Regions from separate parts of the Homo sapiens genome. Here region 2 is linked to region 1. Evidence: fine-mapped expression QTL. A gene starts in region 1. The other region holds a variant in brackets. All regions are shown on one strand. Distances are between the middles of the regions. Region 1 holds the start of PMM1 (phosphomannomutase 1). Region 2 overlaps DESI1 (desumoylating isopeptidase 1).

The links. PIP is the estimated chance that this variant, and not a neighbour inherited with it, causes the effect.
Region 2: its variant is the best candidate, but not a certain one, in a credible set for the expression of PMM1 in whole blood (INTERVAL, PIP 0.74).

Annotation. Positions count from the first base shown.
Region 1 is chr22:41,588,047-41,590,953 of GRCh38, reverse strand. PMM1 (phosphomannomutase 1) reads left to right here and starts at 1,114. Exons shown (of 8, transcript NM_002676.3): 1 at 1,114-1,235. The coding sequence starts at 1,149. RefSeq lists a silencer at 766-915 and an enhancer at 1,310-1,989.
Region 2 is chr22:41,612,227-41,615,133 of GRCh38, reverse strand. All of the region lies in intron 1 of DESI1 (desumoylating isopeptidase 1), which reads left to right. Among named protein-coding and RNA genes, the nearest start is that of DESI1, 7.4 kb to the left of the region's middle. The variant C/A (reference allele first, on the strand shown) is at 1,472.

The DNA of each region.
Region 1 (2,907 bases):
AAAATAAACATAAAAGTAAGTAAAAATACAAAAATTAGGTGGGCATGGTGGCACACGCCTGCAGTCCCAGCTACTCGGGAGGCTGAGGCATGAGAACCGCTTGAACCTGGGAGGTGGAGGTTGCAGTGGGCAGAGATCCCGCCACTGCACTCCAGCCTGGGCAGAGCGAGACTCTGTCTCAAAAAAAAAAAAAAAAAAGAAGAATCTGGGAAGGTCTCCAAGCAGGTAGACCCTGAGAGCTGGGTCTTATGTGTGGACAGAAGGAATAAGGCTCGGGGAAGGCAATTTGGCAAAGTCCAAAGCCTGAACAAAGGCCTTCAGGAGATTTCTTTTCTTTTCTTTTCTTTCCTTTTTTTTTTTTTTTTTTTTTTTTGAGGCTGGAGTGCAATGGCGCGATCTCGGCTCACCGCAACCTCTGGCTTCTTTGGAATCAAGCGATTCTCCTGCCTCAGCCTCCTGAGTAGCTGAGATTACAGGCATGCGCCACCACGCCTGGCTAATTTTGTATTTTTAGTAGAGACGAGGTTTCTCCATGTTGGTCAGGCTGGTCTCGAACTCCCGACCTCCGGTGATCCGCCCGCCTCGACGTCCCAAACTGCTGGGATTACAGGCGTGAACCACCGCGCCCGGCTCAGGAGATTTCCTACAGCTCAAAATTTGTAAGGCAAAGAGATGGCCACAAACCTTGTGAGAGTGGATGGGGAGCGACCTCGGCTCTCTTAGTCCCGCCTGGCCCACTAGACACTGCACTGCATGGTAGAGGCCCCGCCCGACCCAGCCCCTTAATCGGCCTGTTGCAATCACTATCAACCCGCCAATTCTGGCCCCGCCCCTGTCTTCCGGGTTCACCCTCTCACTTCCTGCGGGTCCCAGGCTCAGGCCCCTCCTCCGCCTTGTTTGGAGCAATCCAATCGAACCTGGAGGGCTCCGCTCCGCCCTATGCCGCGCTCCCCTCCTCCACGAGCAATGAGAATCAGCTCAGGCCCCGCCCCCGCTTCCGCCCGCCTAGACCACGCCCCTTCTTCATTTGGCCAATCAGGCAGTCCACTGGCCCCCGCCCCCTAATGCCCCGCCCCGTCAGCACTTATCCCTGAGCTGCTTCTGCCGTTGCATCTTCGGGACTCCGCCCCGCGCGCGGACCTGCAGCCATGGCAGTCACCGCCCAGGCAGCCCGCAGGAAGGAGCGCGTCCTCTGCCTGTTTGACGTGGACGGGACCCTCACGCCGGCTCGCCAGGTAGGACCCTGAAGATTGGAAGCTCCCACCGGGAGTGTCACGCGGACACCCCCGAGGCTGAGTGTGGGGTCTGCAGCAGCGTGACCGTGGACACCCGGGGACCGAGTGTGGGATGCGGCGGTACCCGGCCCCCTGACATCCGGGGCCACCCACCGGGAGTGAGGGGACCTGGCCCTCACGTCACTGACCCCGCAGCGTCCTTGCCTGTGTTCTGCTTGGGAGTGCTGGGGTTGGATCCAGTACTGGAGGGAGGAGGCTGCGAGCAGGGGCCTAGCTCCCTCCCTCCCCGGAGGCTGTCACACGCCGCTAAGGCCTGGCTCACGGACGCCCCCGCCTCCTGAGCTGGGGATCCCACCCTAGTTCAGCCCTACGACACACCAGTGGTCGGAGCTGGCTTCTGAACCGGGGTTCCAGGCACACAAGCACACAGCCAAGCGTCAGTCATCATCTGGTGGGAGACAGGGCGTCTCGGAGTCTTCCCACCCCGACCTTTGCAGGCCTGGGACTGGGTCTAGTTTCTGAAGCCCCATCACCCACTTTACCTTCCACCCCCAGTCGTGGAGCAGAGAGGGCTTCTTTTCAAATTCGTTTATGAGCTCTACCCACCCGGATGTGAGAGGCTCCAGGCCTAGCCTGTTTGCTGTGAGGACACTGAGGAATAGTGAGGGTAAGAGTCTAGTTTTCTTCTAAAGACTCTCGCTGTGTTGAGCCTCTTACCTCTGCTCAGTTTTTCTCCCATTGGGTCTCATTGTGAGTGAGTCCCCAAAAGCCCCCTCACCAGCTGGATGCATCAGTAAGCAGGCTTCATTCATGCCCTCCCTGTGGGTAACCCACCCTCCAGTCTGGGGGCCTCAAGGACCAACCAACAGGTCTCCTAGCGTGGGGGAGCAGTGGGATGGGCTTTACTGGGCAGTGGCTGATGGGAACCCAGGTCTTAGCCTCCTCTCTTAGGTCCCGAATGCCCCTCCCCATCCTCTGTGGTGAAGTTGCCCTGGCTTGGGCCCTGGAGGCCTTCCTGCAGGGGTGGATCCGGGAGGAAGATAGCAGGACTGGAGCAAAGGTGGGCCATTTGCTTGTGGGTCACGCCTGTAATCCCAGCACTTTGGGAGGCCATGGTGGGCAGATCACCTGAGGTCAGGAATTCTAGATCAGTCTGGCTAACATGGTGAAACCCCGTCTCTACTAAAAATACAAAAATTAGGCTGGGTTCAGTGGCTCACGCCTGTAATCCCAGCACTTTGGGAGGCCGAGGCAGACAGATCACGATGTCAGGAGTTTAAGACCAGCCTGACCAATATCGTGAAACCCTATCTCTACTAAAAATACAAAAAATTAGCCAGGCGTGGTGGCATGCACCTGTAATCCTAGCTAGTCGGGAGGCTGAGGCAGGAGAATCACTTGAACCCGAGAGGCAGAAGTTGCAGTGAGCCGAGAATGTGCCATTGCACTACAGCCTGGGCGACAGAGGGAGACTCAGTCTCAAAACAAAACAAAACAAAAAGTAGATGGGCGTGGTGTCGTGTGCCTGTAGTCCCAGCTACTGGGGAGGCAGAGGCAGGAGAATCGATTGAACCCAGGAGGTGGAGGTTGCAGTGAGCCAAGATTGTGCCATTGCACTCCAGCCTGGGCAACAAGAGTGAAACTCCGTCTCAAACAAACAAATAAATGAATA
Region 2 (2,907 bases), 24 kb before region 1:
GAAGAGACGGGGTTTCACCATGTTAGCCAGGATGGACTTGATCTCCTGACCTCGTGATCCGCCCGCCTCAGCCTCCAAAAGTGCTGGGATTACAGGCGTGAGCCACTGCATGTGGCCTGACCAGTGGTTTTCAAATGCTCTTTAGCTGTGAAACTCTTCCTTGAAATGAAATCTTCTGCAGATATGCATGTGGAAAACAGGTGAAAAGGAACTTTTTTGTTAAAAAAAAAAAAAAGAAGAAGAAAACAAGGTGGGGTGAGGTGGCTTATGCCTGTAATCCCAGCACTCTGGGAGGCCAAGGCGGGTGGATCACCTGAGGTCAGGAGTTTAAGACCAGCCTGGCCAAGATAGTGAAACCCCATCTCTACTAAAAATACAAAAATTAACTGGGCACGGTGGCGCATGCCTGTAATCCCAGCTACTCGGGAAGCTGAGGCAGGAGAATCGCTTGAACTCGGAGGGCAGAGGTTGCAGTGAGCCGAGATCATGCCACTGCACTTCAGCCTGGGTGATAGAGTGAGACTCCATCTCAAAAAAAAAAAAGGATGTAGGCCGGGCACAGTAGCTCACACCTATAATCCCAGCTACTTGGGAGGCTGAGGCAGAAGAATCACTTGAACCCCGGAGACGGAGGTTGCAGTGAGCCGAGATCACGCCACTGCACTCCAGCCTGGGAAACAAAGTGAGACTCTGTCTCAAAAGGAAAAAAGAAAGGATGTAAATTCACTCAATTCATTTTTAATGTTATTGTTGGCTCCAAGTGTTTGGTGGATGAATGAATAAGTGAAAGAATGAACAGGCTGGGTGCAGTGGTTAACCCCTGTAATCCCTGCACTTTGGGAGACCGAGGCGGGTAGATCACAAGGTCAGGAGTTTGAGACCAGCCTGGCCAGCATGGAGAAACCCCGTCTCTACTAAAAATACAAAAAATTAGCCGGGCATGGTGGCGAGCTCCTGTAATCCCAGCTACTCGGGAGGCTGAGGCAGGAGAATTGCTTGAACCCGGGAGGCGGGGGTTGTAGTGAGCCATGATTGCACCGCTGCACCCCAGCCTGGACAACAGAGCGAGACTCCGTCTTAAAAAAAAAAAGAAAGAATGAATAAATAAGGGGATCTTTTTTCTATAGTCCCTATCTCCACTCTATGAATGGATGAGATCCTAAGTGTACCTTGATGCAGTTGAATAGGAAGTGTGGCGTGTAGCTTACAGGCAAATTCAGTGATGATACAAAGGATATAAAGGAGAATAAAGTAGGGTTTGTATCCTGCAACTTTTGAGTTGTTTTTCAGGTGTGAAATAACTGAGGCCCCTCTTCAAAAATCTGTTTAGTAGGAATGGGTTTGAGCTGATGATACATCCATACCTGCCAGCTGTACTCCTGAGTCAGTGAGCATGCGCATCTGAGAAGACAGCAGTAGACTGGGAGTGCAGTATGCCAGGGTGGCAGAGTCATTGCAATAACAAGCCAGG[C/A]AGCCCAGATTGGGGTTAGGAACTTTGTCCTCAATAGCACTGTGTGTCAACCAACAAAGCTAACTAAACAGAACAGCTCATCTCAACAGATGTTCATGTCACATCTCAGGACCAGGTCCTTTGCTAGGTGCTGGAGTTATAAAGATACATAAGAAACTGTCCTGGTTACTGAGGCAACTGTAGTCTAACTGGGGAGAAGGACACGTGAATAGTTTCAATACCAGGGTACTATGAGAACAACTATAAAACTTTCAAATTATAAACCCTAGAAGAAATGAGTTAGCCTTTATTGGGCATGTATTATGTCCCAGACCCTGTGCTACGCATGTGTCATGTATCGTCTCTTTTAATCCTGGAAATGTTATGAGGCAGGCAGTGTTATTATGCTTTTTTTTACAGAATAGGAAACTATAGTTTAAACAGTGCGTCCAATAGAACTTTCTGCAGTGATGGAAATGTTCTAGATCTGCACTGTCCAGTAAGTAAACACTAGTCACATGTGGCTATTGAATACCTAAAATGTGGTTAGTGGAACTGAGGGACTGAATTTGTGCATTTATTTAACTTAAATAGCCACATGTGGTCAGTGGTCACCATATTGGACAGCTCAGGCTTAGTGTTCTCAGCCTCTGCAGTGTTCTCTGTGATCTGGTCCTCCATTACCTCTGGTCATCTTCTACTTCCCCTCCTCACCCATTCTAACTTCACTGGCCTCCTTACAGGCCTTCAGATAAACCTGGCATGTCATTGCCCCTGCATCCCTCTTTCCCTTGCCTCCTTTAAATCTTGGCTCAAAGCTGGGCCTGGTGGCTCACGCCTGGAGGTGGGAGGATCACTTGAGCCCAGTAGTTCAAGTCCAGGCTTGACAACATAGGGAGACGCCGTCTCAAAAAAAAAAAAAAAAAAGTAGGCCTGGGTGGTACACATATAGTCTCAGCAACTGGGAAGCTGAAGTGGGAGGATCACTTGAGCCTGGGAGGTCAAGGCTGCAGTGAGCTTTGATCGCGTTACTGCACTCCACCCTGAGTAGCAGAGCAAGACCCTGTCTCAAAAAAAAAAAAAAAATCTTCACTCAAATATCACATTCTCAAAGAGGCCCACCCTGATCATCCCTGAAACTCCCTTAACCTACTCTTTTTTTTTTTTTTCTTTTTTTGAGACAAGAGTTTTGTTCTTGTCGCCCAGGCTGGAGTGCAGTGGTGCAATCGCAGCTCACTGCAACACCTCCCGGGTTCAAGTGATTCTTCTGTCTCAGCCTCCCGAGTAGCTAGAATTACAGGTGTGTGCCACCATGCCTGGCTAATTTTTGTACTTTTAGTAGAGATGGGGTTTCACCATGTTGGCCAGGCTGGTCTCGAACTCCTGACCTCAGGTGATCCGCCCGCCTCTGCCTCCCAAAGCGCTCGGATTACAGGCGTGAGCCACTACGCCCAGAC